2 separate regions of the Homo sapiens genome follow, and region 2 is linked to region 1. The links come from fine-mapping of genetic effects on gene expression. A gene starts in region 1. The other region holds a variant in brackets. All regions are shown on one strand. Distances are between the middles of the regions.

What was found. PIP is the estimated chance that this variant, and not a neighbour inherited with it, causes the effect.
Region 2: its variant is the best candidate, but not a certain one, in a credible set for the expression of AP3M2 in spinal cord (GTEx, PIP 0.74).

The regions. Positions count from the first base shown.
Region 1 is chr8:42,151,248-42,155,508 of GRCh38, forward strand. AP3M2 (adaptor related protein complex 3 subunit mu 2) reads left to right here and starts at 1,816. Exons shown (of 9, transcript NM_006803.4): 1 at 1,816-1,858; 2 at 3,369-3,713. The coding sequence starts at 3,441. RefSeq lists an enhancer at 772-891 and a silencer at 1,722-2,331.
Region 2 is chr8:42,622,937-42,627,458 of GRCh38, forward strand. No RefSeq gene overlaps it. Among named protein-coding and RNA genes, the nearest start is that of CHRNB3, 72 kb to the right of the region's middle. The variant G/C (reference allele first, on the strand shown) is at 1,712.

The DNA of each region.
Region 1 (4,261 bases):
TAGGGCTCACTAAATATTTATGGAATGGTACTTACAAATTATAAAACACAGTGTATGGCACACAGTGTTTTATAAATATTAACATTTCCAAGGTTCACAACCACTAGGCTCCCTACTTACCTTTCCAGCCTGATCTCCCTGCGCTCTTCCTACCATTCCAGCTCAGCTATACTTAACTTGCTCATCTGCAGAGCCTTCCTTATGTACTTTTTTCTCTGTCCATCTATCCCTGCATTTGAGGGATCCTTTCTCATTTTCAGGTTTCAAGGTAGAGGGTCTTCCCTGACTCTAGGTCAGCCATCTCTACAGCACTCCTCCCACCCCCTATGCGTTCCTTATTCATCACACTGCATTGCAATCCCTTGCTTCTCATTTGTCTTTCCTGCTGGGCCCTGTAACCACAGGGACAATGCCTGTGACAGCAGTCATTGCAGCATCTCCAGCATCCAGCACAGGTCGATACGTGGGGGTTTTCGGCAAATGTTAATTCAGTGAATGAATGAGAAATTCTCACGGCAGCGACTGCATTTCTGCACCTTCGACACACATTATCACGTGTTATTGTATCTTGTGCTGTTCCTTAGGGCATAACAATTGCTAGCATTTTCTAACTCAATCCTCACAACTCTAGGAGGGAGGTACTATTCACGTTCTTATTTGAGAAGTGAGGAACTTGAAGTTTAGAGGAGTTACAGTTCTTTCTCACGGTCACTCAGGTTGTAAGTGTTGGAGCGGGTTCAAGCCAAGTCCTCTGGCACCAGCGTCCCTAAGCCCACCCAGAGTCATACCATTCTGCCATTTTGTTTCTGGCTTTTCTTCATAGTTCAAAGTCAGCCAACTACCTGCCCTTAGCAAGCGTGGAGAGAACCCCCCGCACCACCTCAGCAAAGGGCTTGTGTGTGGAGGAGCTGCCACCCACGCTCCATTTCACCAAAGTGACAACTAATGCTAGGGAGGGCGAACCTCTCATCGGCGAGGTCGCCACTGTCACCAGCGCCCACTGCTGGGTCCAAGGCTGGCGACGCCTCACCGCATCTGGGCTTGACTTCCTGCGTCACTGGGGCGACCCCTGGTCCTGACTTCCACTCCACGCCTTCGTGGATCAGGACGACTGGGACCACTCAAAAGCGTATCCAAGTCCTGAGGTCTCCAAAGCGGTGGAGAGACCCGCCCAGCCCCTCACTCCCCGGCTGGGAACTGAGATTGTGGAGGGTGGGCGCCCTGCCGCGGCCCAGTGGGGCTGGGGGCTTCCAGAGTCGGGGTCCAGGGCTCGGTGTCCGAGACTCCACCGCCAGCCGCGCCGACCTGACCCACGGCCGGGTACAACAGAGAAGGCGGCGCTTCCCAAAGGCACCGATGGAGTGCAGGGTAGCCGCCGCCCTCAGGATTTATCAACCGCGAGGCGCTGTCAGCAACTCGTGCCCGGAAGCCACCCCGCCCCGGCACACACATACTCCAGCGCCCCCTCCAGGCGCACTCCGCAAACACGCGAGCGCGGCGACCGCCCCAGCCCTTTGTGACTGGATGAGTGGGGCCGAGCAGCACGCACTGTCTTCGACCTCCAATCAGGACTCGGGGTCTCGGAGCTGTACCAATCGGAGATGACCGTGGCCTCAACAGGGCCAATCGGGGGACTCGAGCCCGACAACAGGGCAAGCCGCCAACAGCGATCAATCAGAGGGGAGGAGCGGCTCCCAGATACCCAATCAGCGGCCTTCAGGCGCAGATCGTGGGCGGAGCGGTAGCCAGGCCGCGGGCCGGCCAATCAGCGGGCGAGCGGCTGCCTCAGCGCGCGCGGCGGGCGGGGCGGGGCCTGTCCGCGCCTAGGAGCAGTGGGCGCTGAGAGCAGCAAGGCCAGGTGAGGAGTAGGGACGACCCCGAGCCTGGAGAGGGGGCAGGAGTGGGGGCGCGCGAGGGTCGGGGCGGGGTCTCAGGATGCAGCCGGGCGGCCTCTCAGGGCTGCGGACGCGGCGGGGAGAGGTGAGGGGCCGGGTTCAGAGTTCGGGGAGGGCGTCCTTCCCGGCGCCGCGGCTGCGGGCGGAGGGGACACTGTTGCCATGGCAGCGCACGTGCGCTCGCTGGCGCGGCCCGGCACCCCTGCGCTCTTCACCCCGGAACGCGCGTGCCCCTTCAGCCAGGCCCCTGCCCGCCTGCGCCCCGCGGCCTCCGTCGCCGCCGGCTCTGGGCCGGGGCCTGCGCAGGGACCGCCTGCCTAGGCCGCTGCCTCTCCCTCGCACCCCGGGCTGCCTGGCTGTCTCTCCCTCCTGCTGTCTCCTCCAGGCGGCGCTGGGCACCGCAGGCCTCTGCGTTTTGACCACCCGCGCCGGTTCGCGGAATGGCCACATCCTGGCGACTGGCACCAGAGAGATGCAACCGTCTGAGGGCCTTGGGGTGTCTGTCCCCCAGGGAAATTTTTTTTTTTTTTTGGAGGTGGAGGGGGCGGGGTTCTCCCTCTGTTGCCCGGGCTGATCTCGAACTCGTGAGCTCCAGCGGTCTGCCCGCGGAGGCCTCCCTAAGTACTGGGATCACAGGCGGGAGCCCCAAGGGATCTTTTTAAATGTCTTACTGCATTAACAAGTGCCTAAGGAGTGCTCAGAGAATAGCTCTGATTGGATGAATAAAGACCCCCAAGGGCAGCTTTCCATTCCTCCCACCAATTCTGGTGGGCAGAAATAGAAAGCAAACCACATATGTAATTGTACATGTTCTGGTAACCACTTTAAAATAATAAAACAGGTTAAATTAATTTTAATATATTTGATTTAACCCAGGATATCCAAAATGTTATTACAACATATAATCAATATTAAATTATTGGTAAGATATTTGAAATTTTTTTTTTCATGCAAAGCCTTTCAGATTTGTCGTGTGTCTTACACTTAACAGCACACCTCAGTCCGCACCAGCCACCTTTCAAGTGCTCGCTGGTCCCATAGTGGCTATCGTATTAAGCTGCGCATTTCTTGTGTATGTGTGAGCTGTTGCCAAAACATGACATCAAATTCAGTGTTCTTGGAAGCCCTCTTCAAAGAACACTGATTGTGTTGCAGTCAGGCAACGCAAAACATGAGGCACGGCCCTTTTCTTCAAGGAGTTTGCGGTTCGGTTGAGAAAATAGACACCCACAGATAAGTAGTATTTTAAATGGATGCAATTTGGGCGATAGTAAAGATAACTGGGAGTATATGATTGACAGTCAGATGACTGATCATTATCGTTTCGAATTCAAGGGAGGGCTATCTTCAGGCTCATGCAGGAGGGGAAGATTGGGCCTGGTCTTGAAAGATGGGTAAGTCTTGGACTGTTGGGAAAAGATGGGGAGGGCCTTTTGGTTGAATGGAACTGAATATCGCTGCTTTTGTTTTTAGAGTTGAAAACTTACAGAGTCCTGAGGCTTTCAGACTGAAAAAGGCTTTCTTCTGTCACTGACAATCGCCACCATGATCCATAGTCTTTTCTTGATCAACTCCTCTGGAGACATTTTCCTGGAGAAACATTGGAAAAGTGTGGTCAGCCGTTCTGTTTGTGATTACTTTTTTGAGGCGCAAGAGAGAGCTACTGAGGCAGAAAATGTGCCTCCGGTTATCCCTACCCCTCACCACTATCTCTTAAGTGTTTACCGCCACAAGATCTTTTTTGTGGCCGTGATCCAGACGGAGGTCCCCCCTCTGTTTGTCATTGAGTTTCTTCACCGAGTGGTGGACACATTTCAGGTTCGTGAATGTGGGAAAGTTCATATATGTAAACCGTAAAGTGTCTTTGTAGTCCTGTTTCCATTGTGTAAAGCCTCCATTAAGAAACTTAAAAAAAAAAATCAAAACTCTGGTATTACTCACTTCCTCTCCCATCTGATAAGATTCTGGTTTCTATTTATTGAATTGGCTGCATGCAAAATGACAAATGGAATACTTTTGAACCTCTTGCGTGGGAAAGTCATCCTATTTGCGATGACTATATATAGCCTTTCTAGCTCTGATTCTACTTTTTGCTCACAAATTAGAGTTTAGATTGTTTTTGCCTGGTGGTCTTGATCCTAACCATTGTTATCTGCATTGCTTTGAGTTGCATCAGAAAGTGATTGTATAAAGTTTTAGAAAAGAAAAAGTAGAAAAAGCTAAGGAATGCTTAATTTAACTCTCCCAGTCAGGGGTAACTCATGAACCTGTACTAGTTCTCAGGTTTGAGGTGGTTCTTTATAGTGAGAGAGTGGTACTGATGAGCTCTGCTTGCAAAGATGAGATTGGGAAATCTCATGTGCCTG
Region 2 (4,522 bases), 470 kb after region 1:
GTTGGTATGCGCCTGTAATCCCAGCTACTTGGAAAGCTGAGGCATGAGAATCGCTTGAACCCAGGAGGCAGAGGTTGCAGTAAGCCGAGATCGTGCCACTGCACTCCAGCCTGGGTGACAGAGCAAGACCCTATCTCAAAAACTAAAATAAAATAAAGTCTGACCTCCCCTGAGCAACAAGGAGTTCTGCCAGCAGATGACTTTTGGATTTAGACTGCCCCGGGGTCTCCAGCCTGCTGCCTGTCTTGCAGATTTTGAGCTTGTACCTCCATGATTGTGTGACTCACTTCCTTAACATAAATCTCTCTCTCATAGATATAGATATAGATGATATACATATAGATACACACATCCCATTGGTTGTGTTTCTTTGGAGAACCCTGATTAATACACATGTATATCCACATAACTCCATGTCATACACAGTAAAAAAAGAGAGGCCAGTTGTGGTGGCTCATACTTGTAATCCCAGCACTTTGAGAGGCCGAGATGGGAGGATCAGTTGATGACAGGAGTTTCAGACCAGCTTGGGCAACATAGCAAGACCCTACCTCTAAAAAAATTTTTTAGGCCGGGTGTGGTGGCTCACGCCTGTAATCCCAGCACTTTGGAGGGCCAAGGCAGGCAGATCATGAGGTCAGGAGATCGAGACCATCCTGGCTAACACGGTGAAACCCCGTCTCTAATAAAAATACAAAAAAATTAGCTGCGTGTGGTGGCGGGTGCCTGTAGTCCCAGCTACTCGGGAGGCCGAGGCAGGAGAATGGCGTGAACCCAGGAGGCGGAGCTTGCAGTGAGCCGAGATCGCACCACTGCACTCCAGCCTGGGTGACAAAGTGAGACTCTGTCTAAAAAAAAAAAAAAATTGTTTAAAAAATTATCCAGGTGTGGTGGCAGGTGCCTATAGTCCCAGCTACTTGGGAGGCTGAGGTGGGAGGATTGCTTGAGCCCAGGAGGTCAAGGCTGCAGTGAGCTATGATCGCACCACTGTACTCCAGCCTGGGTGACAGAGTAAGACCCTGTCTAAACTAATAATAATAATAATAATAATAATGAAGAAAAAAAGAGAAAATGAAATGTCAAAGGGCATGGGGATGAAAGATGGTCTGCAGCTACCAGTACTTTCTGTTGTCAGTGAAAATAAATTGGTTTAGTTGCTAAAGATGAATGGATTCATCAAATTAATCTAGACAGGTGATATTCAAACATTTTCCAAACAAAATCCTATATAGAATCTCAATATAACAAAATGGTTATACTTCAACTGCCTGACCCTCTTGAGGCACATCTGAACTTATTCTGGTCCATTGTCTACAAACAAGATGAGTGCAAGTCTCCCCAGTGATATTCTAGCATGATCTCAGTTTTACTTTTATTACAGTGCTGCTCAAGTCTGCACCAACGTTATTATAAATTCCTTATGCTCATAGCTCTTGAACAGGTATAATAAGACAAATTTACAAAGTCAGTAAAAGCATTCCTCCCAAACCACTAAAATTTAATTTAATAATATTAATTTAATTTCCCAAATGATGTTTTGCTTAAATTAAGTGCTACTGGTAACATCAATATGAAAATGACTTCTCTGGAGAAGTTTTTGTGTGCGTTTGACATGCCTTTACTATGTTGCAAATGTATGAAATGAGAAAGAACTCAAATTTCCCACACCCTTTTCCCTTTAAAATTACTGAACAACCTTCATTTATGTGGG[G/C]CCTCATGATATTATTTGATGTGGATATTGTGGAGACCTCTTCATTTCCTTTCTGGGTATCTCATGAAAATTAAAGCAGTACTGCCTGACACCAAAGGGAAGGTAGACACAAGCAGACCCCCAAGCCCTAGTGCGGGCAGTAGCCCTCGTTCAGTAGCCCTATGGGTTCAGTGTTATTATTCTATTCTATAATTCAGATAGAAGCTTACATGCATTTATTTAGAGACGCAGTCTCGCTCTATTGCCCAGGCTGGAGTATAGTGGCACGATCTTGGCTCACTGCAACCTCCGCCTCCTAGGTTCAAGCAATTCTCCTGACTCAGCCTCCCGAGTAGTTGGAATTACAGACCTGTGCCACCACGCACGGCTAATTTTTGTATTTTTAGTAGAGATGGGGTTTCACCATGTTGGCCAGGATGGTCTCGATCTCCTGACCTTGTGATCTGCCCATCTCGGCCTCCCAAAGTGCTGGGATTACAGGCATGAGCCACTGCACCTGGCCCATTTTCATGAACATGAAAACACCAATAGATGGCTGGGCGTGGTGGCTCATGCCTGTAATCCCAGCACTCTGGGAGGCCCAGGTGGGTGGATCACAAGGTCAGGAGTTGGAGACCAGCCTGGCCAACATGGTGAAACCCTGTCTCTACTAAAAATACAAAAAATTAGCCAGGCGTGGTGGCACATGCCTGTAGTCCTAGCTACTTGGGAGGCTGAGGCAGAAGACTCGCTTGAACCTGGGAGGCAGAGGTTGCAGTTAGCCGAGATCATGCCACTGCACTCCAGCCTGGGCAACAAAGCTAGACTTCGTCTCAAAAAAAAGAAAACACCAATAGAAGGGAATAGACTTGAGTGGCAAAATGCTATTAGTGAATCCACGTGAAGGGTGTGTAAATGTTCTTGTTTTATTTTTGCAACTATTCTGTAAGTCTGAACTTTTTTGAATTAAAAAGTTGGATTGACCGGGCGTGGTGGCTCACACCTGTAATTCTCAACATTTTGGGAGGCTGAGGCAGGAGGATCACTGGAGGCCAGTAGTTTGGGACCAGCCTGGGCAACATAGGGAGACAGTATATCTAAAAAAAATTAAAATAAAAAAATTAGCTCAGTGTGGTGGCACATGCCTGTAGTCTCATCTACTCGAGAGGCTGAGGCAAGAGTATTGCTTGAGCCCCAGAGTTCAAGGCTGCAGTGAGCTATGATCATGCCACCACATGTCATATGATCCAACCTTGGTGTCAGAGCAAGACCCTGTCTCTAAAAAATAAATAATCCTTCCTGGGGGAGATAGTTGAAAGAAAATAATAAATAAATAAAATTAAAAATTTAGAAAAAAAAGACTGGGCGCGGTGGCTCACACCTATAATCCCAGCACTTAAGGAGGCCAAGGCGGGTGGATCACCTGAGGTCAGGAGTTTGAGACCAGCCTGCCCAACATGGTGAAACCCCATCTCTACTAAAAATACATAAATTAGCCAGGTGTGGTGGCGGGCGCCTGTAATCCCAGCTACTTGGGAGGCTGAGGCAGGAGAATCGCTTGAACCCAGGAGGTGGAGATTGCAGTGAGCTGCACTACAGCCTGGGCAACAGCGACACTCCATCTCAGAAAAATAATTTTTTTTTTAGAAAAAAAAATTCTTATAGAGGAGACCTCACAGCTCACAAAAATATGTCTATACCCTGCAGCGTGAGAAACAGTGATCTACTTCAACCCTTCATTTTATAGATTAGAAAATTGAGACCCAGTGAGCAGAAATGACTTCTGGGAACATTACAGTGCCAATTAGTGGAGAATGAAGATTAAATCTCAGTCTCCTTGTCCAACGCTTCAGCAGACTCACTGTGAATTGCAGGGTTTAGATCCCTACATTTCTCACAGGGTGATACCATGCTGTGAGGAATTGTGGAGGATTTCACAATCAACTTGTGTTTCCAGAATGCTCCTCAGCAACCTTGGAGAAGACACCAGCTTGTGCACCCCAAACACATCACAGTCATAATAAAGAGAGTCCACTGTGGATGGAGGAGAGACTCCACTCTGCCAGGAAGCATTTCGGTTTTTTTGTTTTGTTTTTTGAGACAAAGCGTCTCTCTGTAGTGCAGTGACATAGGTGCGTGCCACCATGCCTGGCTAATTTTTGTATTTTTAATAGAGATGGGATTTCACCATGTTGGCCAGGCTGGTCTCAAACTCCTGACCTCAGTTGATCCACCCGTCTCAGCCTCCCAAAGTGCTGGGATTACAGGTGTGAGCCACAGTGCCCGACTGCATTTCATTCTTAAACAGGAAAAAAACCAAACCTGTTTGTCCTTGTAGTTCAGCTACCACTCAATCCTCCTTTAGGCAGTAATACCTGAGGATGGACAGGGCCAGGGTTTGTGACCTAGGGCCACACCCATGCCCGGACCCACCTGAAGATACTTTCTATGCTCTGGGCCCTGCCACCAGCCCTGCACTTTAATTTCTCTTCAGTAAAAAGGAGACTACAACGCTTTAGGGAAAGAGTAGGAATTTCTATACACAGAAGCACTTGGAAAATTGGAGTAAGAAATAAAATGCAAAATGCTTTAAGAAACGCTCCTCATTGAAACCATCATTTTCCTCTAGGGACAGGCCTCTGAATCTCAGGTTAAATAACTCAGTAGCTGAAAGGTGTGATTACTGTCAGAAGGACTGAAATGTCTAAGGGTTGAAAAGAATTCATGAAGGGTTTGAGCAAATGCTCTTGTCTCTGTCCTACAGAGAGGGTCAAGTTTACGAGAGAAATCCAGGGGGAAACAGCAAGTCCTGGTTCATGAGAAACGGGGACA